Linked DNA regions of Homo sapiens. The protein of the gene in region 1 purifies or fractionates together with the protein of each later gene. This does not show direct contact. Each region holds a gene or a part of one and is shown in the gene's direction. Other genes may lie near its edges. The genes, in order: CLSTN1 and KLC1.

What was found.
Region 2: the proteins of CLSTN1 (region 1) and KLC1 purify together in Homo sapiens (co-immunoprecipitation; 3 studies listed by BioGRID and IntAct, with this or other methods). This does not show direct contact.

Annotation. Positions count from the first base shown.
Region 1 is NC_000001.11:9,750,306-9,758,405, reverse strand, and holds part of CLSTN1 (calsyntenin-1 isoform 1 precursor), read left to right. Parts: intron 1-1,895; coding exon 1,896-1,925; intron 1,926-3,096; coding exon 3,097-3,292; intron 3,293-6,724; coding exon 6,725-6,933; intron 6,934-8,100. UniProt on the Homo sapiens protein: Postsynaptic adhesion molecule that binds to presynaptic neurexins to mediate both excitatory and inhibitory synapse formation.
Region 2 is NC_000014.9:103,631,825-103,639,924, forward strand, and holds part of KLC1 (kinesin light chain 1), read left to right. Parts: intron 1-8,100. UniProt on the Homo sapiens protein: Kinesin is a microtubule-associated force-producing protein that may play a role in organelle transport. The light chain may function in coupling of cargo to the heavy chain or in the modulation of its ATPase activity.

The DNA of each region.
Region 1 (8,100 bases):
GAAAGTGGAGGTTGCAGTGAGCTGAGATGCTACCACTGTACTCCAGCCTGGGCAACAGAGTGAGACTCTGTCTCAAAAAAAGAAAAAGAAGCAAGTCATAAAAACTGCACGTGGGCTGGGCGCAGTGGCTCACGCCTGTAATCCCAGCACTTTGGGAGGCCGAGGCGGGCGGATCACCTGATGCCAGGAGTTCGAGACCAGCCTGACCAACACAGAGAAACCCCATCTCTACTAAAAATACAAAATTAGCCAGGCATGGTGGTGCATGCCTGTAATCCCAGCTACTGAGGAAGCTGAGGCAGGAGAATCGCTTGAACCCGGGAGGCAGAGGTTGCAGTGAGCCGAGATCTTGTTACTCCATCCTGGGCAACAAGAGTGAAACTCCGTTCCCACCCCCCCCCAAAACAAACAAACAAAAAACTGCATGCCATGTGATACCATTTTTAAAACCTTAAAACCAAGCAAAATGAAACAACACTGTTCAGGGAGAATAAATGGTAGCACTATTAGCAAAGCAAGGGAATTCAGGTCGTGTTACCTTTGGGGGAGAGAAGGTGCCACCAGTGAGGGCCCAGTGTGTTGAGGGGCAGCGAAATTCCTGATCTCTTCACATTTCCACTCCTCCATAGTAAAGGGTTTATAAGCAGGATATATATTGACTTGGTAGAACAGAGCTTTCATGTAATGAGAACAGTGACTGTTGTAGCATCCCTACAGTTAGTTTTGAATCTGGTTTCTATTCACATTTAAGCAGATGTTCCATTAGCAGAGGGGTTTATATTTGTTGCCTTGGTTGGGTACTTTGGATTAGAAAAATATTGTCATTTTTTTCAGTTCAAGAACAAAGGGTTAAAACCTTTTGTTCGGCTGGGTGCGGTGGCTCACGCCTGTAATCCCAGCACTTTGGGAGGCCGAGGCGGGTGGATCATGAGGTCAGGAGATCGAGACCATCCTGGCTAACATGGTGAAACCCTGTCTCTACTAAAAATACAAAAAATTAACTGGGCGTGGTGGCGGGCGCCTGTAGTCCCAGCTACTCGGGAGGCTGAGGTAGGAGAATGGCGTGAACCAGGGAGGCGGAGCTTGCAGTGAGCCGAGATCACGCCACTGCACTCCAGTCTGGGCGACTGAGCAAGACTCCATCTCAAAAAAAAAAAAAAACCTTTTGCTCCAAATTTTTGTTTCATTAAATCTACTGATGAGTTGAATGTTACCAGAATCTAGCTGAGAGAATTTAGGTTGGAAATGAACATCTGAAAACTGCAAAATAACAAATAGATGTACTTATTCATGGTTTGTCACTAGAGTGTTCATTAAAAGAAAAATCCTGCCGGGCACGGGGGCTCACTCCTGTAATCCCAGCACTTTGGGAGGCCGAGGTGGGCGGATCACGAGGTCAGGAGATCGAGACCATCCTGGCTAACATGGTGATACCCTGTCTCTACTAAAAATACAAAAAATTATCCGGGCGTGGTGGCGGGCGCCTGTAGTCCCAGCTACTCGGGAGGCTGAGGCAGGAGAATGGTGAACCCAGGAGGCGGAGCTTGCAGTGAGCCGAGATAGCACCACTGCATTCCAGCCTGGGTGACAGAGCGAGACTCTGTCTCAAAAAAAAGAAAAATCCTAATGACCCCTGAGGGTGTTAGGACACTTCATGTAGGAGTATTTCATCCCTAAATTAATAACTTCAGAATTATGCAGTAGTTCATGGTAAGTTGGATTCAAAGTGACATTTTGTTCCTGAAGATTAGGTTTTGCTGTAGCAATCGTAGAAGCCGGTCGCTGAGCTTGGTGTGGAAATGTGTAATATGTGCACCTTTGACTTTTTTCCTTAGTGTATTCCATCTTCATTCTTTCCTGTATTACTGACATGGGCTTATCTTTTCTCCCTTTAGAGAGTTTTGAGGTGACAGTCACCAAAGAAGGTGATAAAGGGTTCTTTCTTCCCCTCTTATGAATATTAACCCACTAACTTTGTTTATAAAATTGGGAATCAGCCCTTAAACAGGAGAAACTGTCATGCTCTTTTATCCTTATTTATTCTCCTACTTTGTTTCTATTTTAAAGTATATTGATGGAAATTGTATGTAACCAGACCCTTGGTTAGAAATATCTGGAAATCAGACATCCATTTGAACTGTATGGATAACACTGTACATTTTTGTTTAATAGAACTTCAGAGATTTGCTTTATAACAATTTTCTATTAGTTGGAATTGTGGAAGGAGTGCAGTCTTATTTTCATGTGAAATACATTTTGTGGAGTTTCACATCGACATCAAAACATTTATACTGTTCTCCCATGGACAAGAATGGAAACATAGATTTTTAACTCCTAATTAAGTTGTGAGCCAATTTAGATGTAGAGAAGTTCCCAGGCTGGTGTCTTTTTCAGGTTTGATAGGATAAAGTCCGAAACAAAGGCAAGTCTAGCCAGTCCCTCCCATAATAGAAACTGTGTCTGAATCGTAGATGATAAAATAGCTGTTGAAATGGATGCCTGACGAGTCGGTATTTCTACCTTTCTCATTGAGTAGTTTGTTTTGATTCCCTAATTTTAGCCAGGCTCATTGCACAGGAAGACTTGTTTCCTTTGATTTTTTTTTTTGACAGAATTTCTGTAATTACGGTGCTGATCCTATATCTCACGCTTCCTCCTCTCTCAACACATAACTGCGTTTTAGCTTCTCTCTGGTCCAAATCAAACTGGCTGCCAGCCCTCCCAGGAGCTGGGGCAGCGCTGGTGTTCTCAGGCCTGGCTGTGTGCTAATGAGACTCCTTTTACCCTCGAGCTATCTAAGTGCTCCTGTGGAATGCCTGTCTATATTTTCTTCTCTCTCTCTTTTGTATTCCTGCATGAATGGATGCAAAGTAAACAAGTTGCTTGGAAAGCCAGAATCTGCTTCATCTTACTAAAGCCCGAGAACTTCCCCATGTTTAAAACACAGTGCCCCTGCTTTGTCCACGGACCCTCCAAACCCCTGGCTGCCAAATTGTTGTCATTTATTTTCTTTGGGGGTGGAGATGGGGGGAGGAGGGCAAGGTGCAGAAGATCTATGTGGTAGGAATTCTTACCTGTTCTGCTTTGACTCCCTAGGTGAGATTTGTGGATTTAAAATTCACGGGCAGAATGTCCCCTTTGATGCAGTGGTAGTGGATAAATCCACTGGTGAGGGAGTCATTCGCTCCAAAGAGAAACTGGACTGTGAGCTGCAGAAAGACTATTCATTCACCATCCAGGCCTATGATTGTGGGAAGGGACCTGATGGCACCAACGTGAAAAAGTCTCATAAGTAAGTAAGCTGGACAAAGAGTGAACATAACCCACCGAGTAAACGTGTGTGCGCAGAACGAAAATAGTAGTGACTATTGCCTGCTCCCCAAGACTGTTTTTGAAATAGGCAGAAGATAGTTCTCAAGTGTCTACAATTAGATTGTAAACACTTGGAGGGCAGGAATCATGTCTCTCTACCCTTGTATACAGTTTCTAGCAAGAGCCTTGCTCACATTAGGCATATTAGGTTTTTTGGGGTTGTTTTTGTTTGTTTTTTGAGATGGAGTTTTGCTCTTGTTGCCCAGGCTGGAGTGCAATGGCATGATCTTGGCTCGCCGCAACCTCCGCCTCCTGGGTTCAAGCGATTCTCCTGCCTCAACCTCCCACATAGCTGGGATTACAGGCATGCGCCACCACGCTCAGCTAATTTTGTATTTTTAGTAGAGATGGGGATTCTCCATGTTGGTCAGGCTGGTCTCAAACTCCCGACCTCAGGTGATCCGCCTGCCTGGGCCTCCTAAAGTGCTGGGATTATAGGCGTGAGCCGTACCTGGCCTTTTTGTGTTTTGTTTTTGAGATGGAGTTTCGCTGTTTCACCCAAGCTGGAGTGTAGTGGCACGATCTTGGCTCATTGGAACCTCCGCCTTCCGGTTTCAAGTGATTTTTCTGCCTCAGCCTCCCGAGTAGCTGGGATTACAGGTGCCTGCCACCACGCCTGGCTAATTTTTGTATTTTTAGTAGAGACGGGTTTCACCATGTTGGCCAGGCTGGTATCAAACTCCTGACCCCATCATTCACCTGCCTCGGCCTCCCAAAGTGCTAGGATTACAGGCGTGAGCCACCACACCCGGCCTAGGTTTTTAATAAATGAATGAGTGAATAATTTTATCACACCAAATACTCTATTAAAGAAGTAAAGGCCCTACATTAAAAATTGAAAAAGTCTGCTTCTCCCTTAGGAAGGTTATTTTGTTGTCATATTTATCTTTTGCTGTAATTCCTAAGGGCATAAACTTAATCATTGTTGGCCAGGTGCAGTGGCTCACACCTATAATCCCAGCACTTTGGGAGGCTGAGGTGGGAAGATTGCTTGAGCCTAGGAGTTTGAGAGCAGCCTAGACAATGTAGGAGATGCCATCTCTACAAAACATAAACAGCCAGGTATGGTGGCACATGCCTGTGGTCTCAGCTACTTGGGAGGCTAAGGCGGGAGGATTGCTTGAGCCCGAGAGGTTGAGGCTGCAGTGAGCCATGATTGTGCCACTGTACTCCAGTCTGAGTGTCAGAATGAGACCCTGTCCCTAAAAAACAATAACAACAAAAATTGGCCAGGCACGGTGGCTCACGCCTGTAATCCCAGCACTTTGGGAGGCCGAGGCAGGCAGATCACCTGAGGTGATTTTCACCTGAGGTCAGGAGTTCATGACCAGCCTGGCCAACATGGAGAAACCCTGTCTCTACTAAAAATACAAAATTAACCAGGCATGGTGGCACGCGCCTGTAGTCCCTGCTTCTCGGGAGGCTGAGGCAGGAGAATCACTTGAACCTGGGAGGTGGAGGTTGCACTGAGCCAAGATCACATCATTGCACTCCAGCCTGGGCAAAAAGAATGAAACTCCGTCTCAAAAAAAAAAAAAAATTAGTCACTGCTGGTGGAAGTAGGCTGGCTCGCTGCCACAATCCTGAGTGTGTTGCTGCACCTCCTGCCAGTTAGGAACTGCAGTTGTAGCAGAGAGGGCTTTGGACAAGACAACATAGAACAGGGGTCGCCATACCTCAGGACGTGGGCCAGTACTGGTCCGTGGCCTGTTAGGAACCAGGCCACACAGCAGGAGGTCAACAGCATGTGAGCGAGTGAGCATTTCTGCCCGAGCTCCACCTCCTGTCACATCAGCAGCGGTATCAGATTCTCACAGGAGCGCGAACCCTGTTGTGAACTGAGCATGCCAGGGATCTAGGTTGTGCGCTCCTTATGAGAATCGACTGCCTGATGATCTGAGGTGGGGCATTTTCATCCCAAAACCATCCTCCCACCCCCATCTGTGGAGAAATTGCCTTCCATGAAATCAGTCCTTGGTGCCAAAAAGGCTGGGGACTGCTGGTGTTCTCAAGTCCAGTGTCTTCTACAATTAGATTGTAAGCTCTAGTCTTTTCTAGAGCTCTAGTCTTTTCTCCACCACTTGCTAGCCCTTTGGCATTGTGCAAATTTAATTTTGTTGAGTCTGTTTCTTTTTCTTTTGTTTTATTTATTTATTTATTTACTTATTTTTTGAGGCAGAGTCTCGCTCTGTCACCCAGGCTGGAGTGCGGTGGCACAATCTCGGCTCACTGCAACCTCCACCTCCAGGGTTCAAGCGATTCTCGTGCCTCAGCCTCCCAAGCAGCTGGGATTACAGGCACGCTCCACCACACCTGGCTAATTTTTGTATTTTTGGTAGAGACGGAGTTTCACCATGTTGGCCAGGATGGTCTTTAACTCTGACCTCTGGTGACCCTCCTGCCTCAGCCTCCCAAAGTGCTGGGATAGGTGTGAGCCACCACACCCGGCCCTGAGTCTCAGTTTCTACTTAGCACATCTACTAAAGAAGGGTATGTGGGCGAGATGGTGTCACATAACCCATTGTGAGGGTCAGACCGATGGCACTGGGATGAGGAGGCTCATGGTGAGCAGAAGGTGCAGTGCCCCAGTGAGTCTCTTCTCTTTTTCCACAGTGTAATGTTATTGTTTCCCTTGAAAAGGTCAGATTTTGACCAAAGTCCTTGACTGATTCAGAAGCATGCCCTGACCATTAGCCCTTGAAACCTACAGTTTTTTTTATTTGTAGCCAGGTCTGATGACACCCTAATTTTCTTGATAACTGAGCTGGGGTATTGGCAGGTGGCAACGGCCTGCCTCTCCTGAACTCTTCCATTTGTTGAATCAGGACCAGGTGATGCCATGGACTCCAGCCTATTCCCTAGAAGTAGGACAGAATTCGTTTGAACTCTCAGAATCAAACCATTTCATGCTTTCTCTGTTTCATACCCCTTCTTCCCTTGGCTCTATTTTTTTTCTGGATTTTGCTACAAAATATGTTTCAACTTTATAATTGGAGAGCAAACAGACGTCTGGTATTGTTTATCTCCCTTCTGCCTGTCTTGTCCCATATTGTCAAAAAAAAACACCCAAGTCTCTTTTATTTTAGATGATTGGTTTTTTGCTTTATTCTTAGGATATGGAAGAATCGACCCAAATCCCTCTTTTAACTTTCTGTTATCTCCACACTTGAATGAAAAGCAGTGAATAGCTTGTTTAATTTTTGACTTCATCATATGAATTTCATGAAACAAGGTATCAGAAACAGGAAATTTTAAAGTAGGGCAGAATTGGGTAAACACACATACACACTCTCTGTCTCTCTCTCACACTGAAAACAAGCAGAAAAATATTTTTCTCCCTCCCTTTGTCCAGAGCAACTGTTCATATTCAGGTGAACGACGTGAATGAGTACGCGCCCGTGTTCAAGGAGAAGTCCTACAAAGCCACGGTCATCGAGGGGAAGCAGTACGACAGCATTTTGAGGGTGGAGGCCGTGGATGCCGACTGCTCCCCTCAGTTCAGCCAGATTTGCAGCTACGAAATCATCACTCCAGACGTGCCCTTTACTGTTGACAAAGATGGTAAGAATCGAGGAGCCGGCTTTTCAGCTAGGTAGACAGTCCCTGCTAACCCCACTGACTTTACACCCCAGCTTCTGTGCTTCGTCAGAACTTCATGGAACTCACAAGTTGGAGACCTAACCTGGTGTGTGTTTGCTTTTAATTGTAAAAACATTTAAGTTTCTACTTTGTTCCCTGACAACTTCTTCTCTGGAACCTGTAAGTCCTGTGTTCTCTTGTGGGGCTCACCTCTTTTTTGCTTTCCCACCAAAATCAAATAAAAATCCTCCTACCTGACATGGCTTTGTTTTTTTAATCTTCTTAACTTTCAGTCCACATGCATCTGAATGAGACTGACCTTTACATTTAGTTTGTCTCATTTTCTGTTCTCCATTAAGTTTTTTGTTTTTGTTTTTGTGGTTTTTTTTTGAGACAGTTTCTCACTCTGTTCCCCAGGCTGGAGTACAGTGGTGCGATCTCAGCTCACTGCAACCTCTGCCTCCCGGGTTCAAGTGATTCTCCTACCTTAGCCTCTCGAGTAGCTGGGATTACAGGTGCCCACCACCACGCCCAGCTAATTTTTTGTTGTTGTTGTTTGTATTTTTAGTAGAGATAGGGTTTCACCATGTTGGCCAGACTGGTCTTGAACTCCTGACCTCAGGTGATCCGCCCACCTTGGCCTCCCAAAGTGCTGGGATTACATGTGTGAGCCACCGCGCCTGGCCATGTTCTCCATTAAGTTAGAATCTCCTGTGACATCTTTTTTTTTTTTTTTTTTGTTTGAGGGAAGGTCTTGCTCTGTCGCCCAGGCTGGAATGTAGTGGTGCAGTCACTGCTCACTGTAACCTCGAACTCCTGGGCTCACGGGATCCTCCCGCCACAGCCTCGCTAGTAGCTGGGACTGCAGGCACACACCTGTAGTCCCAGCTATTTGGGAGGCTGAAGTGGGAGAATCGCTTGAACCCAGGAGGCAGAGGTTGCAGTGAGCCGAGATCAGGCCACTGCACTCCAGCCTGGGCAAGAGAACGAGACCCTGTTCCAAAAAGAAAAAAAAAGATAATACAGTGTTTCCATTGTTAATCAATGCACGGTCTAGAATCTTTGATGGAATTATGGACATTGCAAACACTTTCCAGAGATCTATACTCACCACGTTCAAAAAGCAGGCTTCTGTTCTAAGCAGGTGGG
Region 2 (8,100 bases), on another chromosome or scaffold:
CTGACCTCAGGCGATCCACCCGCCTCAGCCTCCCAAAGTGCTAGGGTTACAGGTGTGAGCCATTGCACCTGGGCTGAAACCAGTATTTTATGTAGCAAAGAAATGATCAGTAATATACTCAAGACGAGAGTATTTGGGAAGATTTAAGTGTCAAATTTCAGGGCATAGAATAAAAGTGACAAGCACATTAAGATTGCAAATACTGGTCTTAAATGTCTGTTGGGAACCAACTGAATGGCAGGTACTGTGCTGAGTAGTCAGCGATACCTTGATAAAAGAGCCACTGTTGGCCGGGCGTGGTCATGCCTGTAATCTTAACTCTTTGGGAGGCTGAGGCTGCAGATCGCCCCTAGCTCTTTGGGAGGCCGAGGCAGGTGGATCACCTGAGGTCAGGAGTTTAAGACCAGCCTGGCCAACATGGTGAAACCCCGTCCCTACCAAAAATACAAAAATTAGCCAGGTGTGGTGGTGCACACCTGTAATTCCAGCTACTCATGAGGCTGAGGAAGGAGAATCGCTTGAACCGGGAAGTGGAGGTTGTAGTGAGCCGAGATCACGTCACTGCAGTCCAGCCAGACTCCGTCTCAAAACAAACAAAAAGAGCCGCTGTCAGCCGTGCAGTGGCTCACTCCTGTAATCCCAGCACTTTGGGAGGCCAAGATGGACCGATCACCTGAGGTCAGGAGTTTGAGACCCGCCTGGACAACATGGTGAAACCCTGTCTCTACTAAAAATACAAAAAAAACCAAAACCGGGTGTGGTGGCGGGTGCCTCTAATCGCAGCTACTCAGAAGGCTGAGGCTGGAGAATCGCTTGAACTGGGGAGGCAGAGGTTGCAGTGAGCCGAGATCACGCCATTGCACTCCAGCCTGGGCAACAAGAGCAAAACTCTGCCTCAAAAAAAATAAAACCAAAAAACAAAAAAACTCTGTCCTCTAGGAGCTCACAGGCTGGCATGGGCAGGTACCACAGACCAGGTTAAAGGCTGTGGAGTGCACTGAGGAGGCGATTCTTCACAAAAGAAAAGTACCAATCAGCCAGTGTCAGGGGGTCAGGGGTGGGATTGGGATTGGGGTTCCTGCTTGGAGGAAATAAATCCTGAGGTTGTGCTGCTGTAAAGGGGCATGTTGGGAAGGGGACATGGGAGTGAGTGTGGAAAGACGAGGTTAGGAAAGGCCTTGAATGACTTCTTAGAAGTCTGCTTTCATTCTGAGGTTTACAAAGGAGGGTTGGAAGATTTTTTTTTTTTTTGAGATGGAGTCTTGCTCTGTCACCCAGGCTGGAACGCAGTGGCACGACCTCTGCTCACTGCAGCCTCTACCTCCCAGGTTCAAGTGATTCTCCTGCCTCAGCCTCCCGAGTAGCTGGGACTACAGGTGCGTGCCACCACATCCGGCTAATTTTTTGTATTTTTAGTAGAGTCGGGGTTTCACCACGTTAGCCAGGATGGTCTCCATCTCCTGACCTCGTGATCCGCCCGCCTTGGCCTCTCAAAGTGCTGGGATTACAGGCGTGAGCCACCGCGCCTGGCCGGAGGGTTGGAAGATTCTGAGGAGCCAGTTGCCACTTTAGAAAGAGCATAGGCAGTGGTGGGGCAGGTGCTGTGAACTGGGATGAGGTTAATTAGGAAGCCATTAACCCCAACTCGGCAAGCCTCAGGATTAGGGCAGTGACAGAAGGAACAGAGAAGCTAGGTGGGGGCAGGGGCTGGGCTGTAAGGGTTATAGTGGAGCTGATTTGGGGCTGACTGGATTGGGGTAAATGAGGAGCTGCAGGGAGGACTCCCCAGAATGATCCTGTGAAAACCTGAGTCACTCCTCTGTTAAAGCTTTTGTCAGTGTCCTCTGAGCACCCCACCCTGTCTCTTTTCATCTTCCTGCTCTGGCCCTACTCAAGCACTTCCAGGTGCATCTGGAGTTCTGAACCAAACCCATTCTTGTAGTGATTAGCATTTCTTCACTTCCCCACATACTCCTTAGCCTCTGCCCTGATTTTTCTCCTTAGCACACCTCACTATCTTAAATGCTGTATTATTATTATTTTTTTTTTATTATTACTTTTTGAGACGGAGTCTCGCTCTGTCACCCAGGATGGAGTGCAGTGGCATGATCTCAGCTCACTGCATCCTCTGCCTCCCGGGTTCAAGCCATTCTCCTGCCTCAGCCTCCCAAGTAGTTGGGACTACAGGCATGTGCCACCACACCTAGCTAATTTTTGTATTTTTAGTAGAGACAGGATTTCACCATGTTGGCCAGGCTGGTCTCGAACTCTTGACCTTAAGTGATCCACCTGCCTCAGCCTCCCAAAGTGCTGGGATTACAGGCCTGAGCCACCGTGCCTGGCCAATACTGTATTATTTTAATCATTTTAAAATTTTTATTGTTTGTCTCCACTTAACATTCATAACCTCCACAAGGATGGGGAGTTTTGTCTCTTGTATTCAGTGTCGGTGCTTGGCGTGTAATAGGAACTTAGTAAATGTTTGTTGAAGGAATGCATCTAGAATGATCCTCATCTCTAATTTGGGTGATTCACTGGCTGGTGACACTCATCCAAGGAGGGAAAATGGGAGAAGGATGAGATTATGAGTTTGTTTTTGGACATGTTAAATCTGAAGTGCTTGTGGGGCAGCCAAGTGGACTAGTGGGCAGTTAGAGATACATCTTTGGAGCTCAAGACAGAGGCTGAGGCTGGAGGTAAAGATTCCAGAGACTGCATCATATCGTTGAGCCAGTCGGGTGTGATGTCCATCTGGTAGAGATGGGGAGTGGGTCTAAGAGGAGAGGGTCCTGGGAAACCAAGAGAAGAGGAGGGAGGAGATCAGTAGCAAATTGGCTAAGAAGTCAGTGATGGGTTGGACTGAGAAGTCTCTATGGATTTTGCTTCTAGGAGGTTACTAATGACCTTTAACTTTTTTTTTTTTAAATATAGTTTATGTAGAGACGGGGGTCTCACTGTGTTTCCCAGGCTGGTCTCGAATTCCTGGGCTCAAGCCATCTGCCTGCCGTGGCCTCCCAAAGTGTCGGGATTACAGGTTTGAGCCACTGCACCCGGCCTGTTGCCTGTTTCCTGAGAATATTACCTCTTAAGGATGGAGGCTATTTCGAGATGATCTTCATTCGTTCTCCCAAGGCATCCTTTGTGGCGTTGTACTCTGTAGCCTCCTAGTTAGTATACTCATGGATCAGAAATGAATTATGATTTTTTTTTAGTTTTAACTAATTTTTGGAGGCAGATGAAAGCAGTTTGCATATATGCTTTTTGAATTTGAAAAGTGCTATCTGAACTTAAAGCAACGGATATGGAGCAAACATGTTAAGCTGAGTTACGTGCATACGTGAACTGAGTTACTTCCTTGGTTCTAAAATATCTGTTACCTTCATTTAAACCATAGATTGTTCCCTGACTTCAGTTGCATAACATAAATTTATGTTCAGGCTTCTCTGAAGTTCACTATGCTGCTACTAAAACTGATCAGAGTGATGTTTGCACTGTTCCAGAGAAAATAGGTACTGTAAACCCTGCGGATGTCATATGTGTCTGTAGTTTCAGTTACTCCGAAGGCTGAGGTGGGAGAATCAGTTGAGCCCAGGAGTTCAAACTAGCTTGGGCAATATAGTGAGACCTTGTTTCTTAAAAAAATAAAAGGCTGTGCTTGGTGGCTAATGTCTGTAATCCCAGCACTTTGGGAGGCTGAGGAGGGCGGATCACCTGAGGTCAGGAGTTTGAGACCAGCCTGGCCAACATGGGTGAAACCTTGTCTCTACTAAAAATATAAAATTAGCCGCGTGTGGTAGTATGCTTCTGTAGTCCCGGGTATTTGGGAAGCTGAGGTAGGAGAATCACTTGAACCCGGGAGGCGGAGGTTGCAGTGAGCCAGATCGAGCCACGGCACTCCAGCCTGGGCGACAGAGTGAGACTCCCATCTCAAAAAGAAAAAAAAAAAGTAAAATAGGTACTGTTACTGAGATTCTACTGTTGAGGAATTTGAGGGTGAGAGAGGGGAAGTTTCAGAAACCAAAGTTACACAGCTGTGAAGTCAAGATTCTAACTCAGTTTTTTTGCTTCGCGGTATAAGCTTTGAATCACCTTGCAGTACTTAAAGCTGCAGCTTCAAGTGAATCATGATAATGCTGTTTAATCCTATCATTACTTTTTCTTGGGGAAACCTCGCGCCACTTCAATTTTTTTCAAAGATGTACCATTTTAACCATTTAAAAGTTCACAATTCAGTAGTGTTAAGGATATGCACATCGTTGTTCCACATTTCTGGAACTCTTTCATCTGGCAGCGCTGAGACTGTAGCCCCCAAATACTGATATCTCCTCCTCCCTCGCCCTCCCCCGGTAACCATCTTTTCTACTTTGTTTCTATGATTTTGACTACTTTCAATACTTTATTTTTTATTTTTTTTGAGATGGAGTTTCACTCTTGTTGCCCAGGCTGGAGTGCAGTGGCACGATCTCAGCTCACTGCAACCTCTGCCTCCCGAGTTCAAACAATTCTCCTGCTTTAATTTCCTGAGTATCTGGGATTACAGTCATGGGCCACCATGCCGGGCTAATTTTGTATTTTTAGTAGAGATGGGTTTCTCCATGTTGGTCAGGCTGGTCTTGAACTCCTGACCTCAGGTGATCACCCCCCATCGGCCTCCCAAAGTGTTGGGATTACAGGCGTGAGCCACCGTGCCTGGCCTTGCCTGTCTTTTTCATCTGAGCCATTCTAGCGGGGTATAGTGGCATCTTGTTAGTTTTAATGTGCATTTCACTGATGACTCATAATGGTGAGCGCTTACATGCTTGTCGGTCTTTGTATGCCTGGATTTGTAAAGTGTCTGTTCAAGACTTTTGCCCATTTAAAAAATTGGATTGTTTGTATTTTTAAGTTCCTTACATATTTATTTATTTATTTATTTTTGAGATGGAGTCTCCTCTGTTGCCCAGGCTTGAGTGCAGTGGCGCGATCTCGGCTCACTGCAAGCTCTGCCTCCCGGGTTCACGCCATTCCCCTGCCTCAGCCTCTGGAGTAGCTGGGACTACAGGCGCCTGCCACCACGCCCAGCTAATTTTTTTTTTTGTTGTATTTTTATTAGATATGGGTTTCACCATGTTAGCCAGGATGGTCTCGATCTCCTGACCTCGTGATCCGCCCGTCTTGGCCTCCCAAAGTGCTGGTATTAACAGGCGTGAGCCACCACGCCCAGCAGTTCCTTACATGTTTTTTTTTTTTCAGATGGAGTCTTGCTCTTGCTCTATTGCCCAGGCTGACGTATTTTTTATACAAGCCGTTTGCCAGATATATATGTGTCGCAAATATTTTTTCCTAATCTATGGCTTAACTTTATTTTTTGGTAGTGCCTTTTAATAAATCAATACTTTTAATTTTTCTTAACCATGCTCTGGCAAGTTTTATTAAAGAAATTTTCGGCTGGGCGCGGTGGCTCACACCTATAATCCCAGCACTTTCGGAGGCCGAGGCGGGTGGATCATGAAGTCAGGAGTTTGAGACTACCCTGGCCAGTATGGTGAAACCCCGTCTCTACTAAAATTACAAAAATTCGCCAGGCGTGGTGGTGTGCACCTGTAGTCCCAGCTACTTGGGAGGCTGAGGCAGAAGAATCGCTTGATCCCGGGAGGCAGAGGTTGCAGTGAGTCGAGATTGCGACACTGCATTCCAGCCTGGGCAACAGAGTGAGACTCTGTTTCAAAAAAAAAAAAGAAATTTTCGCAGGGTTTATTTTTATCTTTTATTTTTTGTTGTTGCCTAAGCAACATCCGCTTTCCTTAATTCTGAAAGCATATCTATAAATAAGTCACCCAAAGGCCAAATAGATGCATTTGTTTTGTCTGGTTGTTAATGTTTTCTTTTTAAAAAAATATTTATGTATTTATTTAATTTTTGAGACAGGATCTTGCTCTGTTGCCTAGGTTGGAGTGCAGTGTCACAGTCGTGGCTCAGTGCAGCCTCGTGTTCAAGTGATCGTCCCACCTCAGCCCCTGAAGTAGCTGGGACTACATGTGCGCACCACCATGACCGGCTTGTTTTTTGTAGAGACAGGGTTTCATGGCATTGCCCTGGCTAGTCTTTAACTTCTGGGCTCAAATGATCTGCTCTCCTTGGCCTCCCAAAGTGCTGGGATTACAGACGTAAGCCACTATGCTGGGCCACCAAGATACTATTTATTTCCCTGAATATGACGTGGACTGTTCCTGTAGGCTGGTCCCTTCACCTCAGGACCCTCTTTGCTGGTATTGTTTGGGGCTTCTGCGCCTGTATATGGGGATGGGACCTGACCCTGCTGATCTGGCCAGCACTGCCAGGGTTTCCTGTTGCCCATCTCTCGGTAAAACATCCCTTATAAACCTTTGCAAGGAAAAAACCTCTGTTTTCTTCCCTCCATCCCATTTTTCCTTAATGTGCTACCCTCGTCTGTATTCATAGGAACTTTATTTAACACTTGAGAACTGAGAGTAATTGACATTTCTTTCTTGGCTGTCCTTCATTCTGTGCACCCAGACCTATTGCTTTTTCTACCACATTCTTTTTCTCTTTTAGAAAATTGAAATGTAAGTCACATCACATCAAATGCCCCATTTTAAAGCGTGCAGTGCAGTGATTTTTAATGTATTCTCTGTTTTGTGCAACTACCATCTATCTAATTCCACACATTCCTTTTCCCTTTTTAGTGCTTGGTGTTTTTTTTTTTTCTTAACTTTCTTCATCACTGTAAGCTTTCCCCACCTGGCTGAATTTCACATGATAAAACCAGGGGAGGTAAAGTGACCAAAGATGATGCCCTTTGCTTCTCTGGCCTTTGCTTTCATTTCATTAATTTTTTTTTTTTTTTTTTTTTTTGAGTCAGAGTCTCGCTCTGTCACCCAGGCTGGAGTCTGGGTGTATATGTATGAACACAGTGGGGTGTGTGGGTGTGTGTGAACATAGTGGTGTGTATGTATGAACACAGTGGGGGTGTGTGTGCGTGAGCACAGTGGTGTGTGTATGTATGAACATAGGGGTGTGTGTGAGCACAGTGGTGCATATGTATGAACATAGGGTGTATGTGTGTGAGCACAAGGGTGTGTGTGTGTGTGTGCGTGCATGCAGAGTGGTAGGGTTCCTGAAGCAGAGGGACACTTGGGGCAAAGAGACCTTGGATTGTGTTCTTCTTGTTGGTAGAATAAGCTTAAATCACTTCATGTATCCCAGTTTCCTCAGCTGTAAATGGGAATTATAATGATAGGTCATCAAACTACCTGCAGACTTTTTTTGTTGTTATTTCGATAAAATATTACACATTTGAAAATGCTCCCAAAACTAACATATTGGACAGATGCGAATTCTTCTTTCCTTTTTTTTGAGATGGAGTCTTGCTCTGTTGTCCAGGCTGGAGTACAGTGGCATGATCTTGGCTCATTGCAGCCTCAGCCTCCCAAGTAGCTGGAACTACAGGCATGTGCCACCACGCCTAGCTAATTTTTATATTTTTAGTAGAGATGGGGTTTCACCATGTTGGCCAGGCTGGTCTTGAACTCCTGACCTCAAGTGATCCGCCTGCCTCAGCCTCCCAAAGTGTTGGGATTACAGGTGTGAGCCACCACGCCTGGCTCTTTCTTGTCTTTTACTTATTTATTTTTTTGTGACAGGGTTTCGCTGTGTCACCTAGGCTGGAGTATAGTGGTACAGCCAAAGCTTACTGTAGCCTTGAGCTCCCAGGCTCAAACAATCCTCCCACCTTAGCCTCCTGAGTAGCTGGGACCACAGGCGTGTGCCACCACACCCAACTAATTTTTATTTTTGTAGAGACAGGGTCTCACTGTATTCCCCAGGCTGGTCTTGAACTCCTGGGCTCAAGCAGTGCTCCTGTCTTGGCCTCCCAAAGTGCTGGGATTACTGGTATGAGCCACCACACCCGGCCCAGATGTGAATTCTTTATTTTTATTTTATTATTTTTGAGACAGGGTCTCAACTCTGTCACCCAGGCTAGAGCACAATGGTGCAATCATGTTTCACTGCAGCCTTGATTTCCTGGACTCCAGTGATACACCTCAGCCTCCTGAGTAGCTGGGACCACAGGTGCATGTCACCACACCCAGCTAATTT